Regions from separate parts of the Homo sapiens genome. Here regions 2, 3, 4, 5 and 6 are each linked to region 1. Evidence: fine-mapped expression QTL. A gene starts in region 1. Each other region holds a variant in brackets. All regions are shown on one strand. Distances are from middle to middle.

Region 1 (4,000 bases):
ATAATGGAATTGTCCATTTCCTCAATCATAAATCCCTTTCTTAAATCATATAACTTCATGACAATTCCTTTAAGGGAGATTTTCTCCGTTTATCAGGAGCAATACCCTGCAGTATTAGAAATCACTATTTCTGACCGGGTGCAGTGGCTCACACCTGTAATCCCAGCACTTTGGGAGGCCGAGGCGGGCGGATAGCCTGAGGTCAGGAGTTCAAGACCAGCCTGGCCAACATGGTGAAACCCGGTCTCTACTAAAAATACAAAAATTAGCTAGGCATGGTAGCGGTTGCCTGTAGTCCCAGCTACTCAGGAGGCTGAGGCAGGAGAATCACTTGAACCTGGAAGCGGAGGTTGCAGTGAGCCGAGATGGCACCCCTACACTCCAACCTGGGCGAAAGAGCGAGACTCCGTCTCAGAAAACAAAAAAAAAGAAAAAAAGAAAAGAAAAAAATCACTATTTCTAATATCATTAGCCTTAAAAACTCAATAAACTTGCAAAGGCAAGAGTTCCTGCAGGCAGGGCCGCGCGTGGTGGCTCACGCCTGTAATCCCAGCACTTTGGGAGGCCAAGGCGGGCGGGTTACTTGAGCTCAGGAGTTCGAGACCATCCTGGCCAAAACGGTGAAACCCCCGTCTTTACCCCAAAAAAAAAAAAAAATTAGCCGGGTGTGGTGGCGTGCGCCTGTAATCACAGCTACTCAGGAGGCTGAGACAGGAGAATCGCTTGAACTCGGGAGGCGGAGGTCGCAGTGAGCCGAGATCGTGCCGTTGCACTCCAGCCCGGGCGACAGAGCGAGAATCCGTCTCAAAAAAAAAAAAAAAAAAAAGTTCCTGAAGGGAAAAGAGGCCCCTTGGGAGTATTCTCCAACCTCACCCAAACTATTCAACGGTAGGAATTCTCAACCTTTTAAGAATGGTAACGATGTCATTTTTCAACACTTTCTCTCTTCTCTGCCGTCCGCTTCAGAAATTAAAGTCATTCCCTTCCCCCAGTTCCAAGCCACTCACGAGGTGCCAGCTTGCAAAACCGGGGCGTTGGCACGAGTCTGGTAAATGCATGAAGCCCCCACAGTCCCCAGAATCTGAGGATGGCACCCAAGGCCTGCATTCTCCTAGCGTCGTCCTCTCTAAGCGCACAATTCCTTTCCCCAAAACCACCAGAACCCCCAGCCCTCGCCAAAGACAATCAAAGCCTAGAAAGGGTTCTCTTTCCTTTCCTTCTGATTCAGAAACCGCTTCTCACCCGCACCACCTCCCCACCTCCACTTTCCCTTCTGCCGCGAGCCCCCGGCCCTCCGTCCACCCGCCGCGGCCTCCCCAGCGCCCGGAGCTGCCGTCTCCCCTCCCGCACTCCCGTTTCCCCTCCTGAGGGGCGGAACGCTTACCTGCTCGATGGCCAGCTGCACCTCGGGCGTGAGCTGCAGCACGGCTTCCAGCTCCTCCACGAACTCCAGTTCCTCCTCCTCCATCATTCCGCCACCCGGCCCCCTGCCGACCCCCGCCGCGAGCCCAACTCAGGCCTCCAGCCGCCACCCAGGCCCCAGCACAGCAACTCCCTCGCGGCAGCGACCTGGTGAGCCCGGCTCCGTCAGCCGCTCTGTCAGCCGCTCCGGCACTTCCGGCAGGCCAGGGCACTTCCGGGACCGGGGAACTGTGGGATCACGGCGGACTGAGACTGGCGGCGTTCCTGTCACGTCAGGTGTCTCCCGGGCAACGCAGTATCCCGGCGGCCCCGCGTGGCCTCAGCGCGTCCTTAGGATGGGCGGGGCCTCTTCCCTCCCCAAGGCGCGCCCCGCACTGAGGACCCCGAGGTTGGGGTAGGGTCTGGCCTCCAGCAGGACGCCCGGATGAAAGTCAGCCCTGCGGCGTCGCCAACCGCAGCCCACAGCCTCCGCGGGCAGCGCAGCGGCGACCTCTCAGCTCCCGGGGCCCCCTCGGTCAGTGGCAGCGGGTGTCCCCGGCCACGGGGGCGACGTGATCCCAGCTGGCGAGTGGCGATGTCGCCAAGGACATTCGTAGGACGGGACAGTGCCCACTCGATAGAAATTCCCCGTGCGCCGGGCTCTGCGCAGAAGCTTTTCGAGGTGACTGCAGCCTCCTTATGGGGAGAAACGTCTTTTTTTTTTTTTTTTTTTTTTTTGAGACGGAGTCTTACTTGTTGCCCAGGCTGGAGTGCAACGGCGCGATCTCGGCTCACTGCAACCCCGCCTGCTGGGTTCAAGCGATTCTCCTGTCTCAGCCTCCCGAGTAGCTGGGATTACAGGCGCCCGCCACCACGCCCAGCTAATTTTTGTATTTTTAGTGGAGACGAGGTTTCACCATGTTGGCCAGGCTGGTCTCGAACTCTTGACCTCGTGATCCGCCCGCCTCGGCCTCCCAAAGTGCTGGGATGACAGGCGTGAGCTACTGCGCCCGGCCAGAAACGTTTTTTTAAAGCCAGATGACGCAGCGCCCTGGAGCTGGGGAGACGTTTACTGAGGTTGAATATCCGGGATCTAAGTCCTGAATAGTCCACCATTGATAAGTTGTGTGACTTGGAACAAATTACTACCCCGCGTCGATGTGGAGAGGATTAAACATTAACAGCGCGATGTAAATTCAAGCTGGTAATACAGGAAATAGTGAGGTGCCCAGCCCTTACCCCCACAAAGGAACAAATAAGCCAGATCACCGATCACCCTGTGAAACCACCTTTCCTGCAGACACTGAAAAGAAGGAGGGAATTGCAGCCCAAGGAGGACCCGCTCCACCAGGTGAACCGGGAAACTCCAGGAGGGAAACGCGTTGGCCCCACTGAACTTTTTTTTGTTGTTGTTATCAGAGTTGCTCAAAGTAAAAAATAGGAGCAGTATGATTTTTTCTTTTATTTTTAATTGACAAATAATAATTATATAAACAATGTAATTTCTAACAACAAAGGAATGCTAAAAAATATACATTAAAAAAAGAAAAAAAAGACAAAATAAAATATACATTGAACCTGGTGCAGTGGCACAGGCCTGCAGCCCCAGCTACTCAGGAGGCTGAGGCAGGGAATTATTGACTTTCTGAGATTGAATATCAGGGGTCTAGATCTCATCCCACCACTGAGGATCGCTTGAGCCCAGGAGTTTGAGGCTGCAGTGAGGAATGATTCCTTTGCGCCACTGCACTCCAGCCTGGGCCACAAAGGGAGACTCTGTCTCTTAAGTAAACATAGAATATTATTGATTCATAAAATCATGATTTTGAAAATTAATGACATGAAAAATATGCACAATATATTTCAGAAAGCAAAATGTATAATTTCATTTAAAAAATGCATAGCATGGTCCCAGCTTTGTGTGTATTCTGTGCCAATAAAGCTCACAGCAAGGAAATATTACTTTTCTGCACGTGATGAATGTACATCCTTTGTACATTTTCCCAAATGTCTACAATGAGCCTGTAGTTCTCTCATGCTCAGAAAATATGAATGCCTTTTTCTAAAAGGAAAAGGTAATTATAGCTACTTATTTTGGACTTTTTTTTTCCTTTAAAAAATTAAGATATTTACATACAGTAAAATTTACTCTTGCAATTTATGATGCAGTGAGTTTTGATAAATGTGTATAAACGACTGGGCATGGTGACTCACGCCTATAATCCCAGCACGTGGGGAGGCCGAGGCTGCCAGATCACTTGAGGTCAGGGGTTCGAGACCAGCCTGGCCAACATGGTAAAACCCGTCTCTATCTACTAAAAATACAAAACGTAGCTGGCCGTGGTGGTGCACAGAATCACTTGAACCCGAGAGGTGGAGGTTGCAGTGAGCCAAGATTGCACCATTGCACTCCAGCCTGGGTGACAGAGCAAGACTCCATCTCAAAACAAACAAACAAATAATAAGAAAACAATAATAAAACAAAATAAATAAATGTATATAACCATGTAACTACTACCACAATCTAGTTATAGGACAATTTCATTCCCCCAAATTCCCTCTTGCCTCACCCCATCCACTGGCAACCACTGACTTGATT
Region 2 (4,000 bases), 88 kb before region 1:
TTCTCAAGGAATTCACTCTTTATTTTGTTAATTGGGATTTAGAAGGTGACAATCTCAACTCATCTTAAACCAATGCTAAAAGGTTCTCTAAATCTACAGGAGTCAATGTGTTTCTTTTTTTTTCTTCCTCTTTCTTTCTTTTTCCCTTCCACTCGCCCTCCCTCCCTCCCTCCCTCCCTTCCTCACTTCCTTCCTTCTCTGTCTTTCTCTCTCTTCTTTTTTTTTTTTTGAGACAGGGTCTCACTCTGTCACCCAGGGCTGGAGTGCAATGGCATGATAATGGCCTACTGCAACCTTGACCTGGGCTCAAGCAATCCTCCCACCTCAGCCTCTCTAGTAGCTGGGATTACAGGTGCTTGCCACCATGACCAGCTAATTTTTGCATTTTTTGTAGAGATGGGGTTTTGCCATGTTGCCCAGGCTTGTCTCAAACTCCTAGGCTCATATGATCCACCTGCCTTGGCCTCCTGAAATGCTAGGATTATAGGCATAAACCACCAAGCCTGGCCCAATGTGTTTCTTAGAATAACAGCCACACAGAATGGAGCTCAGTGCACCTGTAGTTGCAGCTACTTGGGTGGCTGAAGCAGGAGGGCTGCCTGAGCCCGGGAGTTCAAGGCTGGGGTACGCTATTACCATGCCTGTGAATAGCCATTGTACTCCAGCCTGGGCAACACTGCGAGACCCCCATCTCTTAAAAAAAAAAAAAAAAGCCACACAGAATGTATGTGAACACCAAGCGTGAACACTACCATGAACTATGGACCATCACTCTGGGTAATGATGATGTGTCCGTGTAGTTTCATGAGCTGTGATAAATGCATCGCTCTGGCGGAAGGTGCCGACCATGGGGAAGACTATGCACGTGGGGCCGGGAGCACCTGGGAACTCTCTGTGTCTTCTGCTCAATTCTGCTGTGAACCTAAAACTGCTCTAAAAGGTAAAATCTATTTTAAGAAAAGCCAATATCCCTTAAAACACTTTTGCCCCACAATGTGTTTGAAACATGCAATTTGACTTTACTTTCCATGATTTTAATAAAAAAGACGGCCATGGATTATGGGAAAAGGTGGTTGAGTTATGCTAGATATGGGCTTTTTTTTCTCTTTTTCACCCAGCATTAGATCTAACTGTGTACTACTGGGAGGAAATATATAACTAATAAGAACCAGTTACCAACACTGTTGTAGTCTAGCCGCAAATAAAGAATAAAAGGAGTTCAAGACCAGCCCGAACAACACAGCAAAACTCTTGTCTCTACAAAAAATACACACACAAAAATTAGCCGGTGTGGTGGCACACACCTGTCATCTCAGCTACTCAGGAGGCTGAGGTGGGAGAATCACTTGAGCCTAGGAGGTCAAGGCTGCTGTGAGCCATGATCACACCACTGCACTCCAGTCTGGGTGACAAAGTGAGACCCCGTCTCAAAAAAAAAAAAAAGTCTGACTCTGGCTTTAGCTTTGTCATAGATATACTGATTTAACCTTCCTGGGCTTTGGGTTTTTTTAATATAAAGAGACTATCTGTCCTTGGGCTACACTCATGGATAACGTAGAGAGGATGAACAAAAGACGGTCTTTAAAATGCTTGGAAAGCTCAGACGCAGGCCAGGTGCAGTGGCTCATGCCTGTAATCCCGGCACTTCGGGAGGCTAAAATGGGCGGGCAGATCACCTGAGGTCGGGACTTCAAGACCAGCCTGGCCAACGTGGTGAAACCCCATCTCTACTAAAAATACAAAAATGAGCCAGGTGTGGTTACACACACCTGTAATCCTTGCTACCTGGGAGACTGAGGCATGAGAATCACTTGAATGCAGTAAATGGAGGTGGCAGTGAGCTGGGATTGTATCACTGCAGCACTCCAGCCTGGGTGACAGAGTGATTCTGTCTTGAAATAAAAGCTCTGAACTATCCAGAGGCTATACACACTGTATTGGGAGTGGGAAATTCATTCAACAAATGTTTCCTCTGTGTCTGCTATATCATTAAGGTAGATACTACCCTGTCTCTATGGAACTATCTATCTAGCAAGTCAGAAAATAAAAATGATGATGGGATATATACACAGCACACTGATACATGCGATACCGACTAGGGGAAAACGTGGGGTAGAGGAATCACTGTAGGTCAATCTGGTGTATAAGCCTTGAGTTGGTGGAGAAGGTAGAGATGGCTTGAGGCAAGAACTACACCACGGAAAGTCCCAGAGCAAAGATGGGGGCAGAGGGAGCAGCTGGTGGGGCCACTGTGGGGTACGAGGATGATATTAGTCATCTGGTGGGGTCTGGAAGTGGCATCAAATCCACAGGACAACA[T/C]GGAACCATTAGAGACTGGGGAACCGATGGTGAAAATTTGATTAACCACAGAACCAGTAGAGAACTGGCATCTACCTTGTCACATGGCAAAATTCCACCGCAATCCTCTCAGCCATGCACCACTCACGTGGAAACATGCGGCCGTATTTCTCCTCATAGTCCACAAGCTGGCGTTTTATCCAGGCATAGCGTCTGTCGATTTTGTCCAGCCAGGCAACCTGGTGAAGGTGGAGATCAAAAGCCACCCCAGTGGTTAGAAGTAGAAATGGCAGTTCAAGGAAACAAGCAAAAACACAGAGCCAAGCAAAAGGGAACCAACCTCTGTATTTCTCATGGTTTTAAAGAATCTAGGCTACCTTTTTAACTTGATTTTTTACTTAAAAATTCAGAGGTTTTTGGCTGGGCGCAGTGGCTCATGCCTATAATCCCAGCACTTTGGGAGGCCGAGGTCAGCAGATCACCTGAGGTCAGTTCGAGACCAGCCTGACCAACATGGAGAAACCCCGTCCCTACTAAAAAATACAAAAATTAGCCTGGTGTGGTGACAGGCGCCTGTAATCCCAGCTACTTGGGAGGGGGAGGCAGGAGAATTGCTTGAACCCGGGAGGCAAGGTTGCAGTAAACTGAGATCGCACCACTGCGTTCCAGCCTGGGCAACAAGAGCGAAACTCCGTCTCACACACACACACACACACACACAAAATCCAGAGGTTTTTAACCTGGGGTCCATGATTGGCCTTCAGGGGTCTATACATTTCCAGAAACTATATGCAGAATTTTATGCACAGGTGCATGTTTCTGAATTTCTCCAAAGGGTCAGTGACCTCAAAATGGTTAAGAACTATAAACTCAGCCCCTAGGACTCACAGCTCAACAACCAACACTGTCAGACAGTCATGTAATACGAGGTCTAAATTAGTAGGCTTGACAGCACTCATGTTTCAATAAAATTCAAATGTTACATCTGATCTTATTTGGTCAATACTCACATCTTGGTTTTCTTGAAAAAGTACCAGATACTCTGACAGATGCTGTTTAATAAACTTTTTGATGATTTCCTGTTTGATCCTGGGATCTAGAATATTAGCAACCAGACATGCATCTCGTAGAACATTGCTGGGTCCTCCTGGTCTCTAGTAAAACAAACATGTACCAGGTGAAAAGCCAGAAACAACCTTTAAACCTCATGGCTTCTCACAGCCACTACTTGTTATCTCTACGCATTGTCAGTCTTACTCCTGCTCCTTCACACTCATTCTTTCTGCTGTGGCTGGATCTGTCAGTTACCTGCTGCTCCTCGAGGATGGAATCCTTACACTCGTTTTACAGCAAGCGACAGAAAAACTACCCTGTGAATCTGCAATGAGATATTTTGGGAAATGGGCAGTAATGATCACGGGAAATTTGACTTTCTGCAAACCAAAACTGAAAGAGATCTAAAAGTCAGAATGCCACTGGTCTCTGATGTCGCAAGATGCTGCTGAAGAGGCCTAAGAGTGGGAATGCCACCAGCCTCTCTCCTAAGAGTTGGAATGCCACCAGCCTCACTCCACATGTGCCACTCTTCCCTGACTCCAACCTCTGGGATTCCTGTTCTTAAAGTGCTATGTTTTTGCCAAATAGTGTGGTCTCCCTTAACACATAAAACCAGGTTCCAAGCCACGACATGTGTTTCACAATA
Region 3 (4,000 bases), 180 kb before region 1:
AGTTTCAACCAGGCTGTGGATTTTGATGTCTCAACAGGAAAGGCTGCTATTGCTTAAGACAGCAAACGAGGTAAAAGGAAACATCTATGGTTTTGCAGGGGTGGGGTAGAAAGGAAGCTGAGGGAGAGGAAACTGGAGTCCGGAGATCGGATCTGGAGGTGGCTTGTGATCAGGAAGGAGAGTAAACAAGGGGCTATTTGGAAGGAATTCCTCAGTGCTGGAAACCAGAGCCAGACAAGCAACATGAAACTGAACTCATGACCAATGGCAGCTGTGCACACAGCGCTTTGTAACCTAAGTTGCTTCACATTAGAACATGCTCCGGACTGGGCATGGCAGCTCATGCCTATAATCCCAGCACTCTGAGAGGCCCAGGCAGGTGGACTGCTTGAGCCCAGGAGTTTGAGACCAGCCTGGGCAACATGGCAAAATCTCATCTCTACAAAAAATAGAAAAATGAGCTAGGCCGGGTGGCGAGCGCCTGTAATCCCAGCTATTCAGGAGGCTGAGGTGGGAGAATCACCTAAGCCCAGGAGATGGGGGCTGCAGTGAGCTGTGGTTGCACCACTGCACTCCAGCCTGGGTAACAGAGTGGGACCCTGTATCAAAAAAAAAAAAAAAAACCTTTGGCTGTGCCCCTGAACTGGCTCTCTATACTAGTCTACAGGTGGCGATGGGGGGAGTATGAGGACCTGACACACGTCCTGTGGGGAAAAAACCAAGCAATGTGCTGGGTAACTGCCAAGGGCTTCTCTGGGCCATCAGGGCGGTGGTGGCTGCTGCCCTTGACCAGGGAAGGGTCTCCTCACAAGCCCACCTCTGTTAAGCGGGATTTTAGCAGGATGAGAAGGCACCATGGATGAAAACAGAAAACCACTTCCTAGATCCCAGGCTGAATGATTACAGATGTGAGGGGGGGCATCCAATTCCCAGCGCACTCAACCTGGGCTTAGCAATGAAACTCAAGGGCTCTGAGAGAATGTGAGGCTGATGCTGGGAGATGCTGGGACTGGCTAAGTCAACCGACTCCTCCTTCACTTTAACGTAAGCTCAATCATATGACTGAGCTGGGAGACGCCGGGACTGGCTAAGTCAACGGACTCCTCCTTCGCTTTAATGTAAGCTCAATCATATGACTGAGCAGGGAGACGCCGGGACTGGCTAAGTCAACAGACTCCTCCTTCACTTTAATGTAAGCTCAATCATATGACTGAGCTGGGAGACGCTGGGACTGGCTAAGTCAACGGACTCCTCCTTCACTTTAACGTAAGCTCAATGAGACCCCGGAGCAGCCACCCTGGAGATTTTGAGTCACAGTAAATTTTTACAGAGACACTGCTTCTACCAGCAGTTATGGGGAGCGTCACGATGTGATTTATCAGCAACATTTCTAACACACTAATGAGCACCCAGAGAGTGAGGGAATTTCACCTCCTGGTCCATCTGCCATCTGCAAACATTAATGCCTCCCTGGAGAGTCCACTCTATCCTTTCTTGACAAACTAGAAAGTAAAGCTGACACCACAAGCCGCTCCATAATTGTTAGTCCTGAGGGGTTCATTTGTGAGGTAC[A/G]GGGAAACTGGGAGAGATTGGGGGAAGACAGAAACTTGGAGTCCTGAATCACCAGCTGGGGCCTGGATGGGAACAACCCAAATACAGTAGCTTGGCCTGGGCTGACCCTCCTGAAGCCCTTCCCTGAGAAGTCTGCCAAAATGCTTGCTTGATAACTGGTCAGAGGAGACACTGACCCTCACCACCACCTGGTATCACGGAAAATGGTGCTAAGCCAGATGGTGATCGGCAAAGAACTAAACTATTTCCTCGCTTCAAAACTCAGGGCAGAAATGGCCACACACAAGACACAGCAGGAAGACACACGGCTCAGGGTGCACTCACCTGCCTTGGCCAGGGAGCTCCCTGGCTTGTGCATCCCAATTTCTAGTGCCTTCCTCGGACCAAGAGTGTGTCCAAGTATGAATAGATAAATTCTAGCAGCCATGGTAAAAAATACCAGGGGGAGGGAGGACAAGAAGGCTCAAAAGAAACAGAACCGATGGCTCCTACCCTTAAGAGGCATTTATTAAGCCAGTCAGAGAAACAAAATGCATATATGAAATCCCTGAAAAAGAATTTTAATTATCCAATCCTGGGCAAGGAGAGCTTATGCCTGCACAGTTCAAAACAACAGTAGGCCCCATTCATTTTTGTTTGCCTTGACGTGGCTGGCAATTGTACTGCTGTTACTGTTGCCTATGACTTTAAGTAGCAGATTTAGTTTTATGATTATGCTTCTTTTGTGTACAAATTAAAATCAGTACTGCAGGCACCAGAACAAACCGCAGCTGGATGGTGGGGACACTCAAATTGTGAGGATGCTGGTGGGAAGTATGGTTTTAAAAACAACCCAGTTGAGTATGACACTGAAATGGCGGCCACACGTCACTGTACATTTGTCCAAACCGAGGGAATGTCCAGCGCGACGTCAGAGTCCGGGTGATAATGACGTGTTGATGCAGGTTCATCCACTGTAACGAATGTGCCACTTTGTGTGTGGGGAGGTGTCGGTAATGGGAAGACTGTGCATGTTGGGGGGGTCAGGTACACGGGAAATCTCTGTGCTTGCTGCTTAATTTGGCTGTGAACCTGAAACTGTTCTAAAACATAAAGTCTATTAAAAAGAACAAGAACCCAGAGATGAGCACGCCCCAGGACTTACTTTGCAAATTTAACGCAGAACTGAGTGAAGTACTTGCGTGTGGAAGCCAGGTTGTCACGGATGATGGGGACGTTCTGCTTGATGTGCAGAATGACAGAGGTGACGTAGGGGCTCTGGTCACCAACGTGCTCCACGTTCTGCCACTGCATCTGAAAGGGAGAAAGGATGAGGCGTTGAATCCCTCGCAGGAGAACGGTGTCGCCTGTTACTGGGGAAGGGAGGGGCTGGAGTGGAAGTCAGGTCACAGCTTTGGTATCCCAGGAATCAGGCCCTTTTGTCCTGGGGAGTTTCTTATTCGTTCTGTAGGGACTGATACTCAGGACAAATGCGAGTGTGCCCAGCGGACCCGACAGTGAGGTGTGACCCAGACCCTTTCCTTTTCCTGCCTTGTCCCCGACCTGCCTGAAACAGCCTTCCCTTCTCAGCTAAGCTACCCACTCGTAAAGGATCCTGTTCTCCTGCCGAGTGCCCCACAGCAGGGGACTGCAGCAGAACGGGGAGGGACACCGACTCCCAAGCTGACCGGCAGCCTGGGAGATGAGAGAGGTGGCTGGACTAAGTGACATGCAACCTGGAGGGGAATTCACAGACACCTTTCTCTCCAGTCAACTGGGAGGAGTTTGGGATTCTTTAACACAGAAAACTAGAAATGATATGACACGTGGGGATGTTGCTTCAAAATAATATGAAGTTACCGGGAAGAGGTGCAGATGAAATAAGATCGTGAAGCTGAGTGACAGGTACATAGAGGCTGACCACACTGTTTCCTCTACTTTTGAATATATTCAAAAATTTCCATAATAAAACACTTGAAGAGGTATGCGTGTAGAATCTTACACTCCTAAAACCTTTGGGATTATGTCAGGATTTCAATAAGGGGAAGGGAAAGAGAATCTCTGGCAAACACTAGGGTGGACCAGAGGGTAAGATGGAGACGTGGGGAACAGGCCAGGAGCCAGGCGCAGGGGAGAGAACATTGCTGAGAGCACCGAGGTGGTCCCTGAACAAGCTGTGAACAAAAGTGACAGACCTGCTTCAACCTGAGCCCTAACGACAGGCTCTGGAAGACACCTATAGCAAACTGGCGGGATTCTTGGACTACGTGGCACTTGGCAACATTGAGTCCTGGGAACAGAAGGAGGCAATGCTGCAGTGTGCCATCCCCCAAGGGTGCATGCAGGAGATGGGTGCAGCACCAGCTCCTAGCCTGCCCCGGGCTGGCAGGGAAGGGCATTCTAATCCCGAAGAGTGGGAATGGTCTGGAGGGTTCTGCTGAGTCAGCCT
Region 4 (4,000 bases), 170 kb before region 1:
ATCAAGCACCTACCACGCACCAGGGGCTGAAGGAATGTTTATCAAGCACCTACCACGCACTGAAGGAACGTTTCTCAAGCACCTACTACGCACTGGGCGCTGAAGGAACGTTTATCAAGCACCTACCACGTAACAGGTGCTGTGCCTGACATTTTCACATGACCTTGCTGCCTGATGAATGAATCATGTAGTGAAAGAGGTATTATTACTCCTCTTTGTGAGTAATAATAAATGAGGATGAAACAGGATTGAGGACAGCGAGTGACCTGCCTAAGGAAGCGTAACTGCTAAGTTAGCAGGAAAGGTCATTAAGATGGTACTTAAGATGCTGAAATTGAGTCAGCCAGTCTGACTTCTGACACTGTGCAACCTTCTAAAGGGGTGACCGGGACAAGTCATCTAATTTCTCTGAGCCTCAGTATTCTCGTCTATAAAATTGGGATGATGGTAACATCTATAATCTATTACTGAAAGATAACGCATGGAATGCTCTTAACACAGTGTCTCGCAGCACGTATAAATTCCACAGTAAATTTTAGCTACTGTTATAATTTTAAGAATACTTGCACTATCACTAAAAATCACTAAATTTCGATAACTGATAATTATCAATTAATTCAGATATGTATCAATTAATTGAAATTATGGTGATTTAAGTTTTATTCTTTTTTTCAAAAAAATCTGACCGGGCGCGATGGCAACATGCCTGTAATCCCAGCAGTTTGGGAGGCCAAGGCAGGTGGATCACTTGAGGCCAGGAATTCGAGACCAGCCTGGCCAACACTGTGAAACCCCGTCTCTACCAAAAATACAAAATTAGCCGGGTGTGGTGGCAGGCACCTGCAATCCCAGCTACTTGGGAGGCTGAGGCAGGAGAATCACTTGAACCTGGGAGGCGGAGGTTGCCATAAGCACAAATCACGCCACTGCACTCCAGCCTGCCGGATAGAGCGAGACTCTGTCAAAAAAAAAAAAAAAAAATCTGCATTTTTCTAAAATGGAAGTGATTTAGTTTTGTCATAATGGGAAAAATCTTTTTTATGAAAAAGAAAGCTGTGTCTTGATTCTAGGTAGAACTTGACAGTTTCTTAGTCATGGCTTTCTGTGGGCCTTCTGAAACAGATGTGCATTTTAATGACTGAGGAAAATGAAAATGAGAACAGACTTGTCTTGATTCAACGTAGAAGTGAACTTGAGGATTTCTTAGCTGTGGCTTTCCATGGTCCTTCTGAAACAGATCTGCATTTTAATGACTGAGGAAAATGAGAACAGACTTGAGAACTCTTCTACCTGTTTCAAAGTGTCTTTGGGGGATTATAACGCAGCCTCCTAAATGGGTACATGTTCACAATCCTGAAACCTAATATAAATTATGTGCCAGACGGTAAGAAAATTTAATTTATTCAGTTTCTGTTTTTTCCTAAAACTACCATTAATAGGCAAAACACTAGGTGTGTTTGCTTCTGAACAGAGACTTGGATTTATTTACCTGAGTGATGTGAGCAGCCCTAGGAAAAGGCACGGAGAGAGGCGGGGACCATGAGACCAACAGCCCCTGCTAGGGAGCCCACGGCTCTCTATCCTACGTACAGGGGCATAACCAGACATACTCATTTCTAAGGATTTGTAGGATTTAAATCTAAAAGATAGAATCCTTTGTATTTCCACCAAAACACTCCAAATAACTACTTTTTCCAGAATCAGGAGAACTAGTTTTACTTCTAGCTTCACTATTATAAGTTATATGGCTTTGGGCATAATATGAAGAAGAGAAGGAAGGAAGGAAGGAAGGAAGGAAGGAAGGGAGGGAGGGAGGGAGGGAGGGAGGGAGGGAGGGAAGGAGGGAAGGAGGGAGGGAAGGAGGGGAGTTTGGAGGGAGGGAAGGGAGTCTGGAGGGAGGGGAGGGGACAGGGGAAGGGAGGGAGAGAGGAAAGAAGGAAGGAAGGGAGAGTGGGAGGAAGGGAGGAACGGAGAGAGGGAGG[AAGGG/A]AGGGAGGGAGGGAGTGAGGAAGGCAGGGAGGGAGGGAGGGAGGAAGGGAGGAAGGAAGGAAAGAAGATACCAGAAGGAAAGTTCATTAGTTTTCAGGGAAAAATATTCAACGCAGATTGGAATATGTGGGTTGGCTGTTCAACACATCTTCTCCACTGTAGAAAAGTCCTGGTGTCAGATCAAGAAAAGCTGGAGATGAATATACACCATGATGATGGTGAATGCTTGAAGAACTCATAATCATATCAGCATGAACACTCGTGTGGACCCACCAGGACTGGGCACATGCTGACAGAAATGTATCAACTAATTGAAATTATGGTGATTTAAATTTTATTCCTTTTTTCAAAAACATCTGGTCGGGCACGATGGCAACATGCTTGCAATCCCAGCAGTTTAGGAGGCCGAGGCTCTTCCACTTTTAGGCAGGTTACTTAAGCTGATTTTGCCTCAGTTGCCACATTTGCCAAAAAGACTTACTCACTCTCTCTGTATGGCATGCCACAATCCTGCATAAAGAGGCACTGTGGTGGCGTGATCACAGCTCACTGCAACCTCTGCCTCTCAGGCTCAAGTGACCTTCCCACCTTAGCCTCCCAAGTAGCTAAAAGATCTGGAGCAGGTGATTTAATGTCTCTGTTTCAGCTTCTTTATCTGTGAAAAGGGGAAATAGCATAGCCATCTGATGAATTTATTGTTAGAATGAAATTAATTGGGTTCCAATTCCTGGTAAGTGCTCAGTAAATAGTAACTTATTATCAACTCATACAGGTTATCTAAGAAAATAAGCAATATGGAGGCCAGGCACAGTGGCTCACACCTGTAATTCCAGCATTTTGGGAGGCCGAGGTGGGAGGATCACTAGAGCTCAGGAGTTTGAGACTGGCCTGGGCAACATAGCAAGACCTCATCTCTACTAAAAATCAAGAAAATTAGCCAGGTGTGGTGGTGTGCGCCAGTAGTACCAGCTATTTGGGAGGCTAGGGTGAGAGGATCACTGGAACCCAGGAGGTCAAGGCTGCAGTAAGCTATGATTATGCCACCGCACCCAAGCCTGGGCAACAGAGTGAAGAAATTTTTTTATGAAAGAAAGAAAATAACACTATGGGAAGGAAACGTGGTCTAGAAGTTAATTTTGCTGTAACTCATCAGCAACACTACTGGAATCTCAAAGTCAGAGTTTCAGAGGGACCACCTGACTTTCATCACATTTTCCTCCCCCTTCTTCGGCCTGGCCTGCAGAAGGCTGCACCTGCATGTGAATCTAGCAAACTACCGCTCTGCATTTCCCTCTCCTTGTCTAGCAGCAGGACTCAGGGCCACACCCCCGCGGGCTCGTATTCCTTCATTCCCACATCTCTTCAATCGGCTCCAGGATGCCACCTGCTGAAGTCAGAAGCCCTTCTGCTATCAGGTGCCATTGAGGAGCATCACTCCATCCTCAACAGCACCAGCTATGGACCTAAAGGTTTCAGGGATTCTATGACCCCACCGTCTCTCACAAAGTTGTCCAAGTTTCCTACTCTACATCTACCAGCTCCACCTGGCTACCTCTGCTCAGTAGAGTTATCTATGTCTCACTTGTTTACCAATCTTTGGTCAAAAGTGTGTTTGTGGTCCTTTGGTTCTTTCTCTCCCACTCCCTGGCTCCCTCTTTACCTTCAAAGTCATTCAGGGAATACTACAGTTAAGCAAGTACTGTGCCATGCCACGGGTTTCCAAAATGAATAAGACACAGCCCTCAAGTTGTTCAAAGTTTAATAGGGAAGACAAAGACATAAAAATGATTACATAACAAAGCAGAAAGGTAGTCTAGGTACTATGGTGTCTTGAAAGAGAAATAAATATGCTCTGGCTGAGGCAAGAAATGCTGACATTGTAAGGGACCTAGAAGAGCCAAAACAGTGTTGAAAAAGAACAAAGTTGGAAGACTCATACTTCTTGATTTCAAAGATTACTACAAAGCTATTATAGCCAAACAGTGTGGTACTGGCCTGAGGGTGGACATACAGA
Region 5 (4,175 bases), 220 kb before region 1:
CCCCCAGGTCTTGGGCTGTTCTGTGGCTCATGATGTGTGGATTTGCCTGCTGTTGAACCAGGTCTTCTCTTTCCTTCATATGCACCTGTCAACCAAAATGCTTTTTGAAAAACAGAACTTTACAGCTGGGCATGGTGGCTCACACCTGTCATCTCAGCACTTCAGGAAGCCGAGGGGTGGGGATTGCTTGATCCCAGGAGTTTGAGACCAGCCTGGGCAACATAGTGAGTCCTCATCTCTACACTTTTTTTGTTGTTGTTTTGTTTTGTTTTTTAATAGAGACAGGGTCTCCCTCTGTCACACAGGCTGGAGTGCAGTGGCACGATCATAGCTCATTGCAGCCTTGAACTCCTGGGCTCTAGCAACCCTCCCACTTCTGCCTCCTGAGTTGCTGGGACCACTGGAGTGCACCCCCACATCCAGCCGTAAAGCTCTACTTTTATAATTTATGTTTATATTTTTATTGCTCTGTTCTCATAATTTATCATTTTTTTAACATTTATTTCTATTTTTGTAGAGACAGGGTCTTACCATCTTGCCCAGGCTGCTCTTGAACTCCTGGGCTCAAGCCATCCTCCCTCCTCGGCCTCCCAAAGTGCCGGGATTACAGGTGTGAGCCACCACACCCAGCCAACTACAAAATTTTTGTTAAAATTAGCCTGGCATGGTGGCCGCCTGTACCTGTAGTCTGAGATTCTCAGGAGGGTGAGCTCAGATTCTCATGAGGGTGAGGTGGGTGGCAGGTACCTGTAGTCTCAGATACTCAGGAGGGTGAGGTGGGAGAATCACTTGAGCCCACGTCAAGGCTGCAATGAGCTATGATCACGCCATCGCACTACTGGGTGGTAGAACGAGACCCTGTCCTAAAAATGTTTTTAACAAAAAGTTATTTTGTTCCTTAGTTTAGATTAAGGTGATAGTTTTCAAAGAACATTGAAAGGGACCTGTCATATTCAGTAAAGAAGCGAATTGAATTAAAAACACAAACCTGACAGAACACAGCCCATATGAGTGTACCCACACATGTTGGTGAGCTCGATTCATAACCCTGAGCCCCCGAGACTCACAAAGATGGCCTGAAACAGATACAGGCAAAGGGCTACCAAAGTTCTCGCTTTCAGGGCTATCAGGTCTGAAGGAACAGGCTGGCTTTCTTAGTTTTGTTTTGTTTTTTGTTTGTTTGGGTTTTTTTGTTTTTTGTTTTGAGACAGTGTTTTGCTCTCGTTGCCCAGGCTGGAGTGCAGTGGCACGATCTAAGCTCACTGCAACCTCCACCTCCTGGGTTCAAGTGATTCTCCTGCCTCAGCCTCCCGAGTAGCTGGGATTACAGAAGCCTACCAGCACACCCAGCTAATTTTTGTATTTTTAGTACAGACAGGGTTTCACCATGTTGAAATCAGCCAAGCTGATCTCAAACTCCTGACCTCAGGTGATCTACCTGCCTTGGCCTCCTGAAGTGCTGGGATTATAGGTGTGAGCCACTGTGCCCCGTTGGCTTTTTTTCTGATCTCTCAGTTGGGAGACCACCCGTTTGGCTGGAGTCGTGGGGTCTGGCCAGGTCCAAATGATGACACAAACCCAGACAGGAAGTGCAGCTGGCATCCATCAGTCCAGTGTGCCCAGTGTGGGGAGTCCCCTGATGCCAGTCAAACACGGCTCCACTCTGGAGGCCTCTTTGTAAGCTAAGAGCTGATTCTCCCAAATGCTCCCTAGTTACACAGAAAAGGACCTTCCTTGTCTTCTGCAAAATAAATCCAGGTGGGATTTGGCAAAGAGCTGGGGCACATGGCCTCCTCGGAGCTGCATCAATACACTTGCACTTCGGGCTCCGTTCTGCGTATTCGTGCTGGACGAGGACTTGCAGACCAGAAAAGTAGCCCTTGGGTGAGCAGTTGAAGTTAAGACCCTCGGCTCCTGGGCTGACTTGCTAGAAGGGCGTGCTGTCATTATCCCTGGGGATCAAACGTCTGGTCTGTGTGGCCACACTCCAAAGGCAGGCTCAAAGGTCTCCATGGTACTCCAGGGCCCCTTGAGGATTCGGGTCTGTGGGGGCTGCCCGGGAAGGGACGGAGAGCGAGGGCCCTTGGAGGCAGCCTGTTTGCTCCACACAATGACAGGTGACTTAGCTGTGTCCTTCCCGGGAGCCACAGTGGCTTCACGTACCCCTCTCCTATCCCCAGTTCAGAGCAGAATACATGCAGGCTGGAGGCAGCTGTGGTTTGCAGCCTGATACTTGCTGAAGACATTTACATGCTTTGAAGAAATGTGTTTCAGTTTTGGGTCTTTACTGAGAATGAGCCAGAGGGGGAAGAACTTGTGGTGAGGGAGGGTCTTATCTCTTCCCAGGCCACATCAGCCTGGGGCCAACTGGGGCAGTGTTGTTGCCCCTCTCCCCGCTCCCTTGTAGGACTTCCACCCCCACCTCCAACCACTGACAAGTACGTCTGGGAATCCCC[G/A]AAGATGTCTTTCATAAGCTCATAAATAAACCTGGTCACACTTATGGAATGCCTGCTCTTAATTTTCTTTTCTTTTTCTAGCCCTCACTGTCCTGGCCTCTGGTTCTGCTAAGGTGTGTGACGGTGGACCACCATGGTCCTCCGATTGGGTGCCCCTGCTACAAGTACCATCAGCCCCTGCAGCCTCTTGAGAGAGGTGACAGTGGTGGCACATGGGTACGGTCCCCTTGCCCTTTGCCCCTTGCCCCTTGCCAGGCACCGCCCAAAGCCCTGGGCACTGCTGCCGGTGCTGGTGGTGGCAGAGGCCCCTGTGGCTCTCGGGCATTAGCCTGTAGGTCTTCTGCTGCAAAGCGCCTCTCACCCCTCCTGGTTGCGTGGGTGGGGTGGTCCTGAAGCCCCGTGGCTTCCTTTATTTCTGCCTTCTCTGTAGAATTCAAACATGAACCCTGCAGGGCTAGACCAAGACACAAATATCAATTTCTAAAAACACCCCTTTGAGGGTTGGGCACGGCGGCTCACGCCTGTAATCCCAGCGCTTTGGGAGGCCGAGGCGGGTGGATCACCTGAGGTCAGGAGTTCGAGACCATCCTGGCCAACAGGGTGAAACCCCATCTGTACAAAAAATACAAAAAATAGCCGGGTGTGGTGGCGCATGCCTGTAGTCCCAGCTACTCAGGAGGCTGAGGCGGGAGGATTGCTTGAGCTCAGGAGAGATCAGTCTGGGCAACACGGTGAAACACCATCTCTACAAAAAATACAAAAACTAGCCTGGTGTGGTGCTGGGCGCCTGTAGTCCCAGCTGCTTGGGAGGCTGAGGTGGGAGGATCGCTGGAACCTGGGAGGCAGAGGCTGCAGTGAGCCAAGATCGCACCACTGCACTCCAGCCTAGGTGACACAGTGAGAGCCTGTTGAAAGAAAGAGAGAGAGAAAGAAAGAGAGAGAAAGGGAGGGAGGGAGGGATGGAGGGAAAAGGAGAGGAGAGGAGAGAAAGGCAAGGCAGAGGAGGGAGGGGAGCTTGGCCAAGGTGGTGGCACCTGGGAGGCTTATCTGGCATCCTGGCAGCAAGGCTGGGAGGCTGGTGGTGAGCACCTGGCCCATGCTGATCTTCCCACCTCCCTGGCCTCTACTGACGTGTAACTTGTTCTGCTCGGCCATTGAGTGCCACTCTCTGCTTTTTTTCTTTGAGACAGAGTCTCTGTGGTCCAGGCTGGAGTGCAGGAGTGCAATCTCAGCTCACTGCAACCTCCGCCTCCCAGGTCCAAGGGATTCTACTACCTCAGCCTCCAGAGTCACTGGGACTACAGGCACCTGCCACCACGCCCAGCTAATTTTTGTATTTTTAGTAGAGACATGGTTTCACCATGTCGGCCAGGCTGGTCTCACACTCCTGACCTCAAGTGATCCACTCGCTTCAGCCTCCCAAAGTTCTGGGATTACAGGCGTGAGCCACCGCGCCTGGCCATTCTCAGCAATTTAATTTAATTTAATTTTGAGACAGAGTCTTTCTCTGTCACCCAGGCTGGAGTGCAGTGGCATGATCTCAGCTCACTGTAACCTCTGCCTCCCAGGTTCAAGCCATTCTCCTGCCTCAGCCTCCCAAGTAGCTGGGACTACAGGCATGCACCACTACACCAGCTGATTTTTGTATTTTTAGTAGAGACAGGCTTTCGCCATGTTGGCTGGGCTGGTCTTGAACTCCTGACCTCGGGTGATCCGCCT
Region 6 (4,000 bases), 190 kb before region 1:
GGTGGTCATAAAGTCCTCATTTCTCTAGGGTGGAAGCTACTCAAGAGTAGAACTGCTGGATCATGGGGTAGGCATATGTTTGGCTAACTGCCTAGGAGTTTTCCAATGTGGCTGGGCTAACTTCCATTTCTACCAGCACATATGAAAGTTCCAGATGCTCCACATCCTTACCAACACTTGGTATCATCACTCTTTTAAATTATTATTATGATTAGAGACAGGGTCTTACTCTGTCACCTGGGCTGGAATGCAGTGGTGCAATCATAGCTCACTGCAACCTTGAACTCCTTGGCTCAACTGATCCTCCTGTCTCAGCTTCCCGAGTGGCTAGGACTACAGGCACGTGCCACACTTGGCTAATTTTTAAATTGTTTTGTAGAGATGGGGTCTCGCTGTGTTGCCCAGGCTGATCTCAAACTGCTGAGCTCAAGCAGTCTTCCTGCCACAGCCTCCCAGAGTGCTAGGATTACAGGCACAAGCCATCGCACTTGGCCAAAGTCTTTTAAGTACTCAAAATAACCAATCTTTTCTTTTATGGTTAGTGCTTTTAATGTTTTGTTTAAGGGATCTTTGCCTAACCCAAGGTCATAAACATATTGTCTTATATTAAATCTTCCAGAAGCTTTATTGCCTTATTTTTTAGAGCCATAATCCATCTGGGATTAATTTTCTAAAAATGGAGATATAATTCAAAAACCATAAAATTTACCTTTTGGAAGTGTACAATTCAGTGGTTTTTAAGGTCTATTCACAAGGTTGTACAGCTGTCAGCATTATCTGGTTTCAGAACACATTATCACCCCAGAAAGAAACCCTTACCCATTAGCAGCCATTCCCATCTCCCCCTCCCTCAGCCTTTGCCAACCATTAATCCACTTTCTGTTTTACGGATTTGCCTGTTCTGGACATTTCACAGAAGCAGAGTCACACAATAGGTGGCTTTTTGTGTCTGGCTTCTTTCACTTAACATGGTTTCAAGGCTCTTCCATGTTGTAGCATGAATGGGTACTTTATTCCTTTTAATGGCTGAGTAATATTCCCTTGTATGGATAGACCACATTTTGTTTATCATCAGCTGATGGACATTTGAGTTGTTTCTACTTTCTGGCTATTATAAATGGTGCTGCTATGAATATTTGTGTACAAGCTTTTGTGTGAACACATTTTTTTTTCAATTCTTTTTTTTTTTTTTTTTTTTGAGACAGAGTCTCACCCTGTCACCCAGCCTGAAGGTACAGTGGCGCAATCTTGGCTCACTGCAATCTCTGCCTCCCAGGTTCAAGTGATTCTCCTGCCTCAGCTTCCCGAGTAGCTGGAGTTACAGGTGCACACCACCATGTACAGCTAATTTTTGTATTTTTAGTAGAAGTGGGTTTTCACCATGTTGGCCAGGCTGGTCTCGAACTCCTGACCTCAGGTGATCTGCCTGCCTCAGCCTCCCAAAGTGCTGGGATTACAGGTGTGAACCATGCACCCTGCCTTTTTCAATTCATTTGGGTATATATCTAGGAGTATAATTGCTGGGCCCTGTGGTAACTCTATGTAAATGCCAAACTGTTTTCCAAAATGGCTGTACCGTTTTGCATTACCACCAGCAATGTATGAGTGTTCTAATTTCACCAAATCCTCTTTGGAATTGATTTTTATATATGGTGTGTGGCAAAGGTCAAGATTTTTTTCCGATATGGATATCCAATTACCCAGCACTATTTACTGAAAAGACTCTCTTTGAATGATGCCACTTTGGTCATAAATCAAGTATCTACACATGTGTGGGTCTATCCCTCAGCTCAGATCTGTTCTGTTGGCCTCTTTGTCCCTGGGGCCAGTGCCACACTGCTCTAATTACAATACTGCTGCAATAAGTCTTGATATCCTGAGCTTTAACTCCTCCAATTCTGTTCTAAGATTATTTTGGCTGTTGTCTTCTGTATTTTCATCTAACTTTTAAAATCAGCATATCA[A/G]TTCACACACACACACTCACACACACACACACACACACACACCCCTGCTGGGATTCTACTGTATCTATAGATAAATTGATACAGTAATTAGGATTGAATTCTATCTATAGATTAATTTTGGAATAATTTGCCGCTTTTTAAATTGTTATTTATTTTTTATTGGGCAGCCTCCTCAGCCAGAGCAGGCTCAGAAAGACTCCATATGTATTTCTTTTTGAGTCTTTCTTATCAATGAACATGAGCTATCCTGTCATTTTAAAGGTCTTTATGGATTCTGTGTCTTAATATTGTACAGTTTTCTGTGTAGAAGACTTGTACATTTTTAATTTACTCCTAGGTATTTAATGTTTCCTGATGTTATTGTAAATGATTTCATTTAGGCCTGGGAGCCATGGCTCACGCCTGTAATCGCACCACTTTGGGAGGCTGAGGAGGGTGGAGTTTGAGACCAGCCTGGGAGACACAGGGAGGCAGACCCTATATCTACCAAAAAAAAAAAAAAAGAGCCAGCCAGGCATGGTAGTACATTCCTGTAGTCCCAGATACTTGAGAAGTTGAGGCAGGAGGATGGCTTGAGCCCACGAATTGAGACTGCAGTGAGCTATGATTGTGCCACTGTACTCACTCCAGCCTGGGCAATACAGCAAAAAAAAAAAGTATTTCACTCAAAAATGTTCATTTTTAAATTGTTTGCTGCTGGTATATAGAAATATATTTTAAAACACTTTCCTTATAGCCAGCAACCTTGCTAAATTTATATTCTTTTTTTTTTTTTTTTTTTGAGACGGAGTCTCTATCACTCAGGCTGGAGTGCAGTGGCGCAATCTCAGCTCACTGCAACCTCCCAGGTTCAAGCAGTTCTCCCAGGTTCAAGCAATTCTCCTGCCTCAGCCTCTCGAGCAGCTGGGATTACAGGCGCACCACACCTTGCCCAGCTAATTTTTGTATTTTTAGTAGAGACGGGGGTTTCACTGTGTTGGTCAGGCTGGTCTTTAACTCTTGACCTTGTGATCCGCCCGCCTCGGCCTCCCAAAGTGTTGGGATTAAGGGTGTAAGCCACTGCACCCGGCCTGCTAAATTTATATTCTAACAGTTTATCTGTAGATCCTTTTAGATTTATTACTCATAATCATATTTTCCATGAAAAATGACAGCTTAGTTTCCTCCTTTCTAATCTGTATATATTTTGTTTCTTTTAAAAATATTGTATTTTTTGCCTTGTTGTCCTAGCCAGGACTTCAACAACAACGTGGGATAGAAATGGTGACAGCGGACATTCTCCTCTTATCCTTAATCTCAAGGGAAAGAAAAGCTTTCATAGGTGAACGCAGTCATAAGAATAATTAGTGACCCTGCAAAACAGGATGATCTGAAGATCATAAACTAGCAAGAAGCATGATCAATATTGGTGTGGGTCAGTTCCACGTGCCCTTGCAATTGCTCGAGGACTCTGGGGCCCAAAGATAAAGAACTCACTTTATATAGTACTCAGAGAACAAAGAGCAGAAAAATGTCTCCCATCCCATTTTCAGCATAAGTATTAAAGCAAAACCTAATTTAGGATCTGGCACCCTTGTGGCAAGGCAGACACAGCTGAGGTTGGGCTAAATCTTAGCTTCCAATGCCATAGCTTTTGTTCAAGTTTGGATGGCAGCTGCTCCACTACTGGAGGCAGCGTCTGTTTCAGTCTATGAACACTGCTGAGTTAACTTGATTCTGATGGTTCTGCTGCCTGAGTGAACACGCCTGCAGCTACATGGCTGCTTGAGTTTCAAGGCCCAGACATCAGGGCAAGTACAGGCCCAGCCAAACCTCAACTCATGTGAGAATCGTTCAGGGGCCACGTTGCCCTGTAGTTCCCACCCACACCCTCCCCATTCTGGGCCTGTCAAGATCCACACTCCCCTACTGCCCACCTGAACTGGCCTGGGGTCTGATTAAGTAAAACTCCAGTTCCAGCAGATGGTTTTCTCATCCACACCTCAAAACGGAAGTAAACATAGGATGTTGGCTGTGGGTTTGTTAAAAAATAATAA

Direction of the effects. Alleles are on the strand shown, and positions count from the first base shown. SD is a standard deviation of normalised expression in the study named. Not every link is listed here.
In carriers of allele AAGGG in region 4, the expression in Th1/17 cells of the gene that starts at base 1,601 in region 1 tends to be higher than with A alone (moderate effect, 0.74 SD a copy in Schmiedel 2018).

What was found. PIP is the estimated chance that this variant, and not a neighbour inherited with it, causes the effect.
Region 2: its variant is the best candidate, but not a certain one, in a credible set for the expression of VPS53 in blood mononuclear cells (TOPMed, PIP 0.62).
Region 3: its variant is the best candidate, but not a certain one, in a credible set for the expression of VPS53 in monocytes (Quach 2016, PIP 0.57).
Region 4: its variant is the best candidate, but not a certain one, in a credible set for the expression of VPS53 in Th1/17 cells (Schmiedel 2018, PIP 0.57).
Region 5: its variant is the best candidate, but not a certain one, in a credible set for the expression of VPS53 in lung (GTEx, PIP 0.53).
Region 6: its variant is the best candidate, but not a certain one, in a credible set for the expression of VPS53 in whole blood (TOPMed, PIP 0.60).

What each region holds. Positions count from the first base shown.
Region 1 is chr17:713,239-717,238 of GRCh38, forward strand. VPS53 (VPS53 subunit of GARP complex) reads right to left here and starts at 1,601. Exons shown (of 22, transcript NM_001128159.3): 1 at 1,385-1,601. The coding sequence starts at 1,471. RefSeq lists an enhancer at 2,073-2,142.
Region 2 is chr17:624,780-628,779 of GRCh38, forward strand. VPS53 (VPS53 subunit of GARP complex) reads right to left here. Exons shown (of 22, transcript NM_001128159.3): 9 at 3,309-3,452; 10 at 2,395-2,537. Among named protein-coding and RNA genes, the nearest start is that of VPS53, 88 kb to the right of the region's middle. The variant T/C (reference allele first, on the strand shown) is at 2,320.
Region 3 is chr17:534,312-538,311 of GRCh38, forward strand. It overlaps VPS53 (VPS53 subunit of GARP complex), which reads right to left. Exons shown (of 22, transcript NM_001128159.3): 18 at 2,717-2,865. All of the region lies in intron 1 of VPS53-AS1 (VPS53 antisense RNA 1), which reads left to right. Among named protein-coding and RNA genes, the nearest start is that of VPS53-AS1, 14 kb to the left of the region's middle. The variant A/G (reference allele first, on the strand shown) is at 1,573.
Region 4 is chr17:542,013-546,012 of GRCh38, forward strand. The region is part of intron 17 of VPS53 (VPS53 subunit of GARP complex); the gene reads right to left. The region is part of intron 2 of VPS53-AS1 (VPS53 antisense RNA 1); the gene reads left to right. Among named protein-coding and RNA genes, the nearest start is that of VPS53-AS1, 21 kb to the left of the region's middle. The variant AAGGG/A (reference allele first, on the strand shown) is at 1,983.
Region 5 is chr17:495,103-499,277 of GRCh38, forward strand. No RefSeq gene overlaps it. Among named protein-coding and RNA genes, the nearest start is that of VPS53-AS1, 26 kb to the right of the region's middle. The variant G/A (reference allele first, on the strand shown) is at 2,457.
Region 6 is chr17:527,418-531,417 of GRCh38, forward strand. The region is part of intron 19 of VPS53 (VPS53 subunit of GARP complex); the gene reads right to left. All of the region lies in intron 1 of VPS53-AS1 (VPS53 antisense RNA 1), which reads left to right. Among named protein-coding and RNA genes, the nearest start is that of VPS53-AS1, 6.7 kb to the left of the region's middle. The variant A/G (reference allele first, on the strand shown) is at 1,965.